Linked DNA regions of Homo sapiens: region 1 is linked to region 2. The links come from fine-mapping of genetic effects on gene expression. A gene starts in region 2. The other region holds a variant in brackets. All regions are shown on one strand. Distances are between the middles of the regions. Region 1 overlaps KCNMB1 (potassium calcium-activated channel subfamily M regulatory beta subunit 1). Region 2 holds the start of LINC01366 (long intergenic non-protein coding RNA 1366).

What was found.
Region 1: its variant is fine-mapped to the expression of LINC01366 in uterus (GTEx, PIP 0.95).

The regions. Positions count from the first base shown.
Region 1 is chr5:170,376,611-170,381,988 of GRCh38, forward strand. KCNMB1 (potassium calcium-activated channel subfamily M regulatory beta subunit 1) reads right to left here. Exons shown (of 4, transcript NM_004137.4): 4 at 1-2,363. The coding sequence ends at 2,094. It also overlaps a transcript of KCNIP1 not described here. Among named protein-coding and RNA genes, the nearest start is that of KCNMB1, 10 kb to the right of the region's middle. The variant C/G (reference allele first, on the strand shown) is at 2,342.
Region 2 is chr5:170,328,086-170,333,463 of GRCh38, forward strand. LINC01366 (long intergenic non-protein coding RNA 1366) reads left to right here and starts at 3,308. Exons shown (of 2, transcript NR_108025.1): 1 at 3,308-3,492; 2 at 5,049-5,378. RefSeq lists enhancers at 2,611-3,810, 3,375-3,544, 4,610-5,378, 5,376-5,378.

The sequences.
Region 1 (5,378 bases), 49 kb after region 2:
TACAGTATTTAGTTTTGTGTCCCTGTGTTAGTTTGCTAAGGATAATATTTGGCCTCCAGCTCCATCCATGTCCCTGCAAAGGACATGATCTCCTTCCTTTTTATGGCTGCATAATATTCCATGACGTATACGTACCACATTTTCTTTAATAATGGGTACTAGACTTAATACCTGGGTGATGAAATAATCTGCACAACAAACTCCCTTGACACAAGTGTACCTATGTAACAAACCTGAACGTGTACCCTGCAACTTAAAATGAAAGTTAAGAAAAAAACACACACACAAAACAAACAAAAAAAACTATAGTTGCCATTTTAAACACCTATGATGTGTCAAACATTCCTTCAGCCCTCCCAACTATCCAGAAAGAGTCCTTCTTTTATAGATGAAAAAACTAAGAATCAAAGAGATGAAATCGGGCAGAGTAGAGACAGGATTCAAACCCAAGATCTGCATCTTGGACTCACAACACTGGAAGAAACTTCAGACACCAGCCTAACTTCACACCCAGCTCAGGACTGGCCCTGCCGAATGGTCACTCACCTGCTCTGAAAATCCTCGCGACAGGACGCTCACTTCCTACACCGGTAGTTCTCTGGCTCGAGGTGTGCCACAGAATCCCCTACGCATTGTTAGAACACAGAACATTGCTACCCCCACCCCGTGCAGGGCTTCTGGCGTGGTGGGGCTGGGACAGGGGCCTGAGAGTGTGCATTTCTCACAAGCTGCCACAGGATCCTGATGCTGCTGGCCCAGGGACCACACTTGGACAGTCATCGTTCTAGGAAAACTTCCTGGAGTGGGAATGGTAAAGGTGATGGCTTCTTCCCATTTTGCCCTTTTCAAATCTGAGATAGGCTTCCCCAGCAGGCTCAGTGCCAGAGTCCATACCCTCAATTTAAATAACAAATCCTCCTCTATATCATGACCTTTCCTCCAGAGGGTTGTTTTTCATTTTTTGTTTTTTGTTTTTTTTTTGAGACGGAGTCTTGTTCTATCACCAGGCTGGAGTGCAGTGGCACAATCTCGGCTCACTGCAAGCTCCGAACCCCGGGTTCACGCCATTCTCCTGCCTCAGCCTCCTGAGTAGCTGGGACCACAGGTGCCCACCACCACGCCTGGCTAATTTTTTGTATTTTTAGTAGAGACGGGGTTTCACCATGTTAGCCAGGATGGTCTTGATCTCCTGACCTCGTGATCCACCAGCCTCGGCCTCCCAAAGTGCTGGGATTACAGGAGTGAGCCACCGCGCCCGGCCCAGAGGGGTTTTTAAGATTGTGTGTTCTGAATGGCCTGTCTCTGACTGGAACCCAACTCCGTCCCCAGACCCACTTCCATCTTTTTCTGTGAGGGGGACACACTCTTTCAACTTTTCCAAAATGGCATCTACCATGGCTTTTCTGATTAAAAGCAAACGAAACACACCCTTCCTATAATCAAAAATTTAGAAAAGCAGCAAAAATAAAAAGGGGATAAGGAAGAAAACAGAAATTAACCACCATCCCACCGCTAAAATTTTGATGAGTTCTCATGTGTTTCCTTGCAGCTGATTGTTGTTTGGCATACATTTATTAATATTGGAATTAAAAATATATATGGCACTTTATATCCTAGAAAATAGTAATACTGTAAATGTGTTCTAGAAATGGGAGCTGCTGTTGCTCTTATTAGAGAATTCAAACAAAGAAGGGAGGCTCGCTGGGGACAGCTTCTGGGGGAGGATGGGTACCGCTTTGAGACAACAGGGAGAACTCAGGCACAGAGGTGACGATCATCGTTCTCTGTGGGGCACATAGTGATGCAGCCGGAAACAGGTATGAGTCAGTTGAGTGGGGACAGGTAATAGAGAGCTAGAACTGGCTGGCCTTATGGCCTCCAAGGCATTGGGGAGCCACTGTACATTCTTGAGCAGGCAATGACTTCACAAAAGGATTTCTCAAAGGTTAGTCCTGCAACAGAAGACAGCGTGGATTGGACTGGAAGAGTGGGAGGGCAGGTGGAGAAGGCATTGTGCTGCAAGTGGGGAGCAGCCCTGGGGGCCCAGCCAGTCCCCTGTGCCCTGACAAGTGGTATGGCATGGATGGATGGCTCTACTTCTGGGCCGCCAGGATGGACAGGTACTGGTTGCTCTTCACCATGGCGATAATGAGGAGGCCACCGGTCAGCAGGAAGGTGGGCCAGAAGAGGGAGAAGAGGAGGGCCTGGGGCCCGTAGAGGCGCTGGAATAGGACGCTGGTTTCGTTCCCCCGAGGTGCGGAGAAGCAGTAGAAGACCTGCTGCTCTTGGAATTTGGCTCTGACCTTCTCCACGTCGGCCCGGGCCGTCTGGTAATTGTCCA[C/G]GCTGCCTGGGATGTAGGAGCACTGTGGGGAGAAACAAGAGCAGCTGTGGGCTTGGAAATCCCCATTTCTTAGCCAAGGGCTTGATATGGAGTAAAGAAAAATACCAGCTTTGTAGTCGGGCCCCTGGATTGGAGTCGGGGCTTTGGTCTAAAGCTTGGCAGGCCATGCGCTGTACAGGTCTGGAGAGCACGCTCTCATTTGTGTCTTGTGTGTGGATGGCGGTGCTGGAGCTGCTCGGGGTACAGGCTACACACCTGGGCGCAGGTCCTACCTTGGAGTCCTGGCTCTGCTTGGATTGGCTGTAGAATTTTTGGCAAATTTCTCACTCTTTCTGAGCCCTGAAGCTTCATCACTTAAATGGGTGAATATCGGTTTCAAAGGATATTATGAAAGAAGGACTTCACACAGAGCTATCTAAGGAAACCAGGGAGGGACACAGGCCAAGTGGGCTGTGTATTTGAAATCGAGATCATGTGCTCAATTGCCTACAGGGCTCATGAAGGTATTGTCAGAGGGTGAAGCAGGCAAAGCAATGAGATGACAGGTGCCCACTGACTCTTGCCTTGGTGCCAGGAAGAATTGCCAGGGTGTGGCAGGGCCTGTCAATAGGGAGAGAGCCAGCTGCCTCCAGACAGGCAGTCACCACTCCCTCCAGGCAATGGATGTCAGGCCATCCAGAAGATCTATAATAGCCAGACCTCCAACACTTTAAGAGAAGTTAGAAACCAGATCACACCTGTAATCCTAACACTTTGGGAAGCCGAAGGGGAAGGATCCCTTGAGCCCAGGAGTTCGAGACTAGCCTAGGCAACATAGCAAGACTTTATCTCTACAAAAAAAGTTAAAAATTATCCAGGTGGGCATGGTGGTGTACCTGTAGTCCCAGCTACACAGGAGACTGAGGTGGGAGGATCACCTGAGCCCAGGAGTTGGAGGCTGCAGTGAGCTATGATCTCGCAACTACACTCCAGGTAAGGCAACAAAGCGAGATCCCATTTCAAAAAAAAAAAAAAAGTAAAATATTAGCTAAATTTAAAATTGAAAACCTTTGCAGTTTCAACCTGTGTACAGCAAACAAACTATGTTGGCAAGCGGGTATTTGACACTGGGATCCAAAGGAAAGAAAGAATGCATTGAAAAGAGTTTTGTGCCAGCAGAGCATGACACACATTTAATTCTGACGTTGATTATTGTTATTAGGAACTTTCTGCCCTGTTCAGATGAGGCCAGCTGGAAAGTGATGCAAAGCAGTCATAAAGCGGAGTTTTATCTGGTTTTATCTCTGTTCTGAGCTGCAAGTGTGGTGCCCCCATCTGCAGCAGAATACCTACAGGGCCCCCATAGCCCAGGTCCCTACCCACTCTGCATCACTGAGGGCGAGACCCAGGAATGTGTGATTCCTTCATGCACTTAATTTTGCCCTAGTGAAATCATGTGCAAGATCAAAATGTGTAAAACTGAGACCCAAATGGCAGGTGTTGAGCCAGATTCCTTGCAGGCCTCGGCCACTCCCTGGATTTATATGAGGTGCCACCCTGGAAGCTGCCTGCCCTGAGGGCATTCACTCCAGCAACACAGAGGAGGGTTGCACTGTAGTTCTCACAGCCTGGGAAATGCAGATGCTGCACTCAGATCTAGGGCCCCAGCCAGCCAGGGAGTAGCTGAGGCTGGGGAGACGCTGGCTCCTCAGGAATCTGGCATTCAGAGCTGTTGGACACTGCCAGGTCCTCAGTAGCATATAATCCAGCATCCTGAGCTGACGGTGAGGGGGCCTGGCCTGAGTCTCTCCAATGCCTCTGACTGTGACCTTGGCTAACCTAGCTCCTTAAATAGCAGTGTGGCTATGGAGTCAGACAGGCCTGAGTTCTGAGCTGTGTGACCTTGGCAACTGCCACAACCTCACTGGGCCTTGTAAAATGGGTTTGTGAGGCTACCTGCCTAGGAGAACTGTCATGGGGATTAAATGAGATGATGCATGTAAAGCACTGAGCACAGAAGCCCAGCACACGATAAGAACTCAAAAAAGTGGAAGATGCTATTATTAATAATAATATGTTTTGACTTATCTATGAAATTGCAACAACAGCTCCTTCTTTACCTTCTTAAAAAGAGGTCTATGGATGAGCTCTGAAGTAGAGGCTTCTGTCCATCCTGGGCCTAGTGTATCCTCTGCCTGCTCAGGGTTCCTCTGGATCTTTTATGCTGGGCCTGTTTGGCAAGACACTGGGCAGGAATTCACTCTTCATGGCCAAACCCAGAAGCCGGGGCCTGAATGCATCCTTTCTCTCCTGTCCTGGGTCCAGCTAAGCCTGAGTTATCTGAATGATCTGAAACCAACCAGCTTTTTCCCAAGCCCTGCAGTGTAAGGTCCCCAGGACAGACAATGGGAGGGAATTTAGAACTCACCTGCTCCAGGCTAAGACTCACAGGAAAAGCTGAGGGCAGACTATGGCCCCTACCTTCAGAGTTGGAGGGTGGGATGAGAGTCTTCTTGGCCCTTCACAGTGATTCCAGAGGACACCCAGCTAGCCTGGAGCCCCAGCCACTTGAACCCCTATGATGGACATAGGCGGAAGGAGCAGCTAGCCCACAACCCAGCTGCTTGGCAAAAACACGAAGGGCATTTCCACTGCTTCCTCCCAGCTCCTGCAGCCTGCTATCAGCACCACACCTGGTCAAGCCTGGGCGGCAGGGGAGAGGACAGCAGTGGCTCCAGCATGTCCTTCCTTCACATCCTGCTGACAGTTCATTCAGGGGATGCTCCTCTGAGCTGGCAATCTCAGGACCAGGGAGGCAGCCTGAAAACCAGCCTGCTCTGGCCCATATCACTCCCGGAGAATGTTACCAGTTATTGAAAATTTGTTTCTTGCATTGGGATAAATCAAGGGCTACTGAATGCCAACGCAGAGGCAGGGGTCATGGGTAGGAGCTGCCTCCAGTGGGCCCTGAGACCTCTCTCCACCGGGTGGGGCCGAGTCATACTAGCGATGACAGAACACCTGACCATCCTGCACTGCCCAGACCCACTTCTCATTG
Region 2 (5,378 bases):
CAGTGACTCTCAGATATACACTGCCCCACAGAATACCAAAAGCCAACACGCAACTTGTTTTCAACACTCACTATGTGCTAGGCACTGTTCTAAGCATTTGACCTATGTTGTCTCATCTAATCTTTACAACCCTATCAGGGTGTACTATCATTAACATCCCATTTTACTGAGCACAGAGCTCAAACAACTTGCCCATGTCCACACAGCATGAAGCCAGGATTCAAGCCCTGTCCCACACTGTGCTCCTTGCAGAACATCTCCACCTCAAGGTTTTTCATCCACCTCTAACCTACCATGCCCCAAATGGAATTCACAATCCAAATGGAATCCTTTCCCCCAAACTGTTCTCCTTGTATTTCCAGGGGAAGATCCAGGCTTGGTGGAGCCTGAGGATTCTATAATTGGCCAGGAAGGGGCTCTTTAGGAAAAAATAAATAAAAAGAAAACAATGAATACAAGAGTAGGTTTAGGACCTTGATAGTGGATGTGAAAGGGAGGGATTCTCGCACATAACCTTCATTAGCTTCATGGTGAACCCCACCCCATACATTTTGTATTCCAGTGGCTAGCATCTAGTCATTCCAGCAGGGGCATGGAAAATTCTTCTCTTTATATTCCCTCCCTCTTCCCTTCTTCATCCATATGGAACCATGGATAGCACTCTAGTTCTACCTTCCTCAAGTCTCTAGAATCCCTCTTTACCTTTTCACGTACACTATCCTGATTAGCTCAGGTCCTCAACATCCCACACTCGGACCATAGCCATAGTCCACTCTGTCTATTCCTGCCACTTCCTGGACTTTCCCCAACACAGTTCCTGTGCTTAGCAGGGTGACCATCAGAAACATGCATCTCATCAACCCTTCTGTGATGGTCCATTTTCCTCTGACTAGCATCTACATTCCTTAGCCCAGCAGTACCCAGCACAGGTCAATCTTGCCAGCTTTACTTTTCCCTGTGCTCTCCTTTTGTTCCTTTCTTCAACAAATAATTATTGAGGACCTATTCTTGAGTACTATTATGAAGTGCCAATAGTAGGGTAATTGAATGCTAAACACTGAATATGCAGTAGCAATCAAGACCAGATCTTTCACACCTCTTGTCCCATCACACCAAATAGCTTGCAGTTTTTAGACTCTAAGACTGTGTTCAGCTTCTTTCCCTTTTCCTAGGCTGCAGGGAAGCTTTTAAATTCATTGATTACCTGAATAATAACCACTTATCCTTCGTGGATCAGATACAGTGTTATCTCCCATATAGAGCATTTTCTGATCACCCTCCAGCAGCAAAAATGGATCCCTTCCTCATTTCTATCCCAAATGTGCTTTTGAGATCTGATATTCCCTCAGAACACCTAATATACTTTGATGCAACTACTTGACTATTGAGAAGGTCTCCCTCATTTCAAAGCAAACATTTGGATCAAAGAGACATCATTTTATTCATCTCTACATCCTCACTGGAACCTGCCATATAGTAGACACCATACATTCATACATACGTACATTCACCAACTCATTCATCTTCATCCATCCATCCATCTACCCATCCATCCATTCATCTATCTACTCACTAATCCATCTACCTACTCACCCATCCAACCATCCATCTACTCTTTCATCCATCTACCTACCCACTTGTCCATTTAACCATCTACTCATCCATCTACCCACCCACCTGTCCATCCATCTACCATTTTATTCATTTACCTACCCATCCGTCCATCCATCCATCTACTCATCCATCTACCCATCCACCTGTCCATCTACCCACTCACTCATCCGTCTACTCACCCACCTGTTTATCCATCCATCTACCCACCCACCTATCCATCCAACAAATATTTCTGAATGTCCTCAATGTCCCAGCCATTTCTCCAGACTCTTTGGATATAGAGAAGAACAAGAAAGAAGAGGCCTCTGCTCTCACTAGCCCTACATTCTAGTGTCTGTTGCAGGGTCAGTGAGGGGTGGGTAGGGGGTCACAGACTACGGAAATAAACAAAGTAGGTGAGTGAGAAGTACTGTAAAGTAAATTAACAGAGCAATATCCCAGAGGGTACTACTTTAAAAGGAATGGTCAGGTCACCTTACAAGAAGGTGGCCTTTGTGATGAGTCCCAAATGATAAGAAAGGAAGCAGCCAAACAAAGAGAGACAGAAAGTCCTGATGTGGGAATGAGCTTTGTGTGTTTGAGGAACAGAAAAGAACAGAGTAAGCAGAGGAGAGGACAGAGATGAAGGCAGGGAAGTTAGGGAAAGTGTAAGAACTTGGAAAATACAGGAAACTCAGCAACAGCCAGACCTGATTTTGAATCCTTTCTCTAGCATTCATCTCTACACGTATGACCTTAACCAAGTCACCGCACCTTTCTTAGCCCCCATTTCCCCATCATGGAATGGGGACACAAGTACCTATGTCATTGGGCTTAGGGGAGAAAGTTCGGTAAAATGTCTGACACATGATAGATTTTGACAAACATTATTTCCTCTTCTTTTCTTGCTTTAAACATATAATGATGCTGTTACCTTAAAAGTTAGGTTATGCCATTAGAAGGCGCCTTTGTTCTTTGCTCTTGTTCTACCAAAATGAGAAAATGGCAAAAATCGCAGGGTGGGTCTCAGTTCTCCATTTTGTTAATATCCAAGTTGATATTTCCCTTTTGCGACAGTAACAACAACATGCAAACCAAAAACTGAAACAGCTTCAGTTCTGTGCCCTCAGGATCCAGCGTGGGACTCGTGAGAACCCTCCAGAGACAGCCACATTTCGAAGCAAGTGGCACAGGCTTTGCAGAAGGCACACTGGGCCCCTCTCAAAACTCAAGCAGCAAAGATGATGAGAGAGCTGCAGACTTCGGGGCGTGGAGGATGGGACTAAGCCGCAGAGTGCCTTGTCTAACATGTTTTAGGAAGCACCCTTCTCTTTCCCGACTCACATGGGGCAGCTATAATAATTCAGCTTCACGTGGCTGAATTATTTTCTGTTTTCACTTGGTTCTTTTTTTCTTCTCCTTTAAGAAAAAAAAAGTCCAAATAGGCTTTGGGCCACACTGGACTACCTAGTAAGGGGGATAGATGATCTAGATGATTTGAGAGCTGGTTTTCTGAAAAGCCAGGGAGCTCTGGTCTTGAGAAGACTCAGTAGCCAGGAAGCTGAGGAACACACACACACACACACACACACACACACACACACACAAACACACCCCTTCCTGGCTCCAGTTCCGCACCACCCCACACCCCCAACACCGGAAGTAGATTTCTCAATAGGCAGGGCTGGGTATGAGTCACAGGCAATTCCGTTTTGTTTGGGACCATGAGACCTCCCACTCCTGGGGCCAGAAGGAGTTGCTGAGAAGGAGCTGTGGTTCTGACCTTCAGGGGAATTCCCACGTCTGTATGGTGGCTCGTGAAGAGCATGGTTCCTTTTCTCAGCCCTCTTGAGGGGCGAGGATGCTGAGGACTGAAGTCGGTGGGGCTTGATGCATGTGGTGTGTGGATGGTGTGGGGAGGTGGGGAAGGAGGACTAACATGAATGGTGTGAGGTCTTTCAGAGGGGTCTTCCCAAGGTCACATAGTTGACGGGGGGTGAGTACTCACACTCGTGCAAAGGTGGGGGATAGGAAGGGAAACTGAGGCCATTAGTATTTGGCACCATAGCTGGTCTCTGAGGCTTTCAAATGTTCCCCCAGGAGGTTCAGCCTCTGTGGGGAGAAGCCAGGGGAACCCCATGGCACATCCCCAGCCCTGCCTGCTACCCGCCTCTGCCATCTCCCCTTCCCCTGGGCTATGAGGGGAGGTAATGAGACCTGTGACTCATACAGTGCTCTCCTTTTCCCTCCTATCAGCTCAGACTAAGCAGAGAAGTGGGCAGAGCTCTTTCACCAGAGGTGGAGGGGCCTGTTGGGGAGGGGACCCACCAAATCCTTGGGGGTGGTTCTCAGCTCCCCGGAGATAGGGGAGATGAGACCTCAGGAAGGCTCTGATCAGGCGTCTTCTGTTCTCTTTCCTTTCTTGGGTGGGAATGATGCTTCCCACTTTTGTGGTCCACCTGCAGGCCGCCTTTCATCCTTCTTCAAGTCACAGAGAGACAGAGAGGAGGGGACGAAGGACGAGCCATGGGGTTTTGAAAGCAGGCACAGCAGCAGGGGTGCTGCCTCCAGGGGTCTGCTCTGCCAAGAGTTCCTGTCCCAGGTGTCTACAAAAACAGTCAAACTCTATAAAATACTTGGAGATTTATTCTGAGCCAAATATGAGTGACCAATAGCCCGTGACACAGACCTCAGGAGATCCTGCCCAAGGTGGTCAGGTTACAGTTTGGTTTTATATATATTAGGGAGATACAAGAAATAAATCAATACATAGAAAATGTACGTTGGTTTGGTCCGGGAAGGCAGGACAACTCAAAGCAGAGGCTTCAAGTCATAGATACATTCAAAGATTTTCTGATTGACAATTGGTTGAAAAAGTTGTATTATCATCTAAAGACCTAGAATCAACAGAAGAGAATGTCTGGGTTAAGATGAGAGGTTGTGGAGACCAGGGTTCCCATTATGCAGAGGAAGCCCCAGGTAGCAGGCTTCAGAGAGAATAGGTTGTAAATGTTTCTTATCAGAATTAATTCTCTCCTGGAGCACGAAAAGGAAGGGGATTCTCTTCGAAATATAGATTTTCCCCACAAGAGACAGCTTTGCAGGACTATTTTGAGATACAGCAAATAAACATAACTTGGGGCAAAATACTTTGATTTTTTTTTTTCAGGGCCTGCTCTCTGTCATGTGATGCTATACTACAGCCAGGCTGGAATTTGGTGTCTTATTGCTACAAAGAATCAGCTTTGTCAATCCTAAGGTCTGTTTTAATGTTAATGCTGGTCAGTTGTGCCTGAGTTCCAAAAGGGAGCAGGAAATAATGAGGCACGTTCGACCCTCCCTTCCCACCACGGTTTGCACTAGTTTTTCAGGTTAACTTTGGAAGGCTATTGGCCGAGGCGAGGGGTCCATTCAGATGGTTGGGGGACTTAGAATTTTATTTTTGGTTTACACAGGTCACTGAGAGGCTGCCAGAGGGCCATTTTCATGACCAGAGGGATCTGTTCAACACCCTGTGGGTCCCAGCACCTATCTCAGGAAGCAGGGTGCATCTGTCCACCACCAAGTCTCAGGGTGGCTGGGTGAGCGCTCATCAGTCCCAGACAGCAGGTTGGCACAAAACGACACTGCCCACAAAACCACAGGAAGAAGAGAAACTCCGACTGTCTTTCAGCACACAGAAGACACTGTACTGGACCCGGACATTAGGCAGACACCCACGCCTGACTTTCAGGAGAAAAGAGAACATGACTAACGGATATTCTTAGTAGATGGTTTATTAGAAA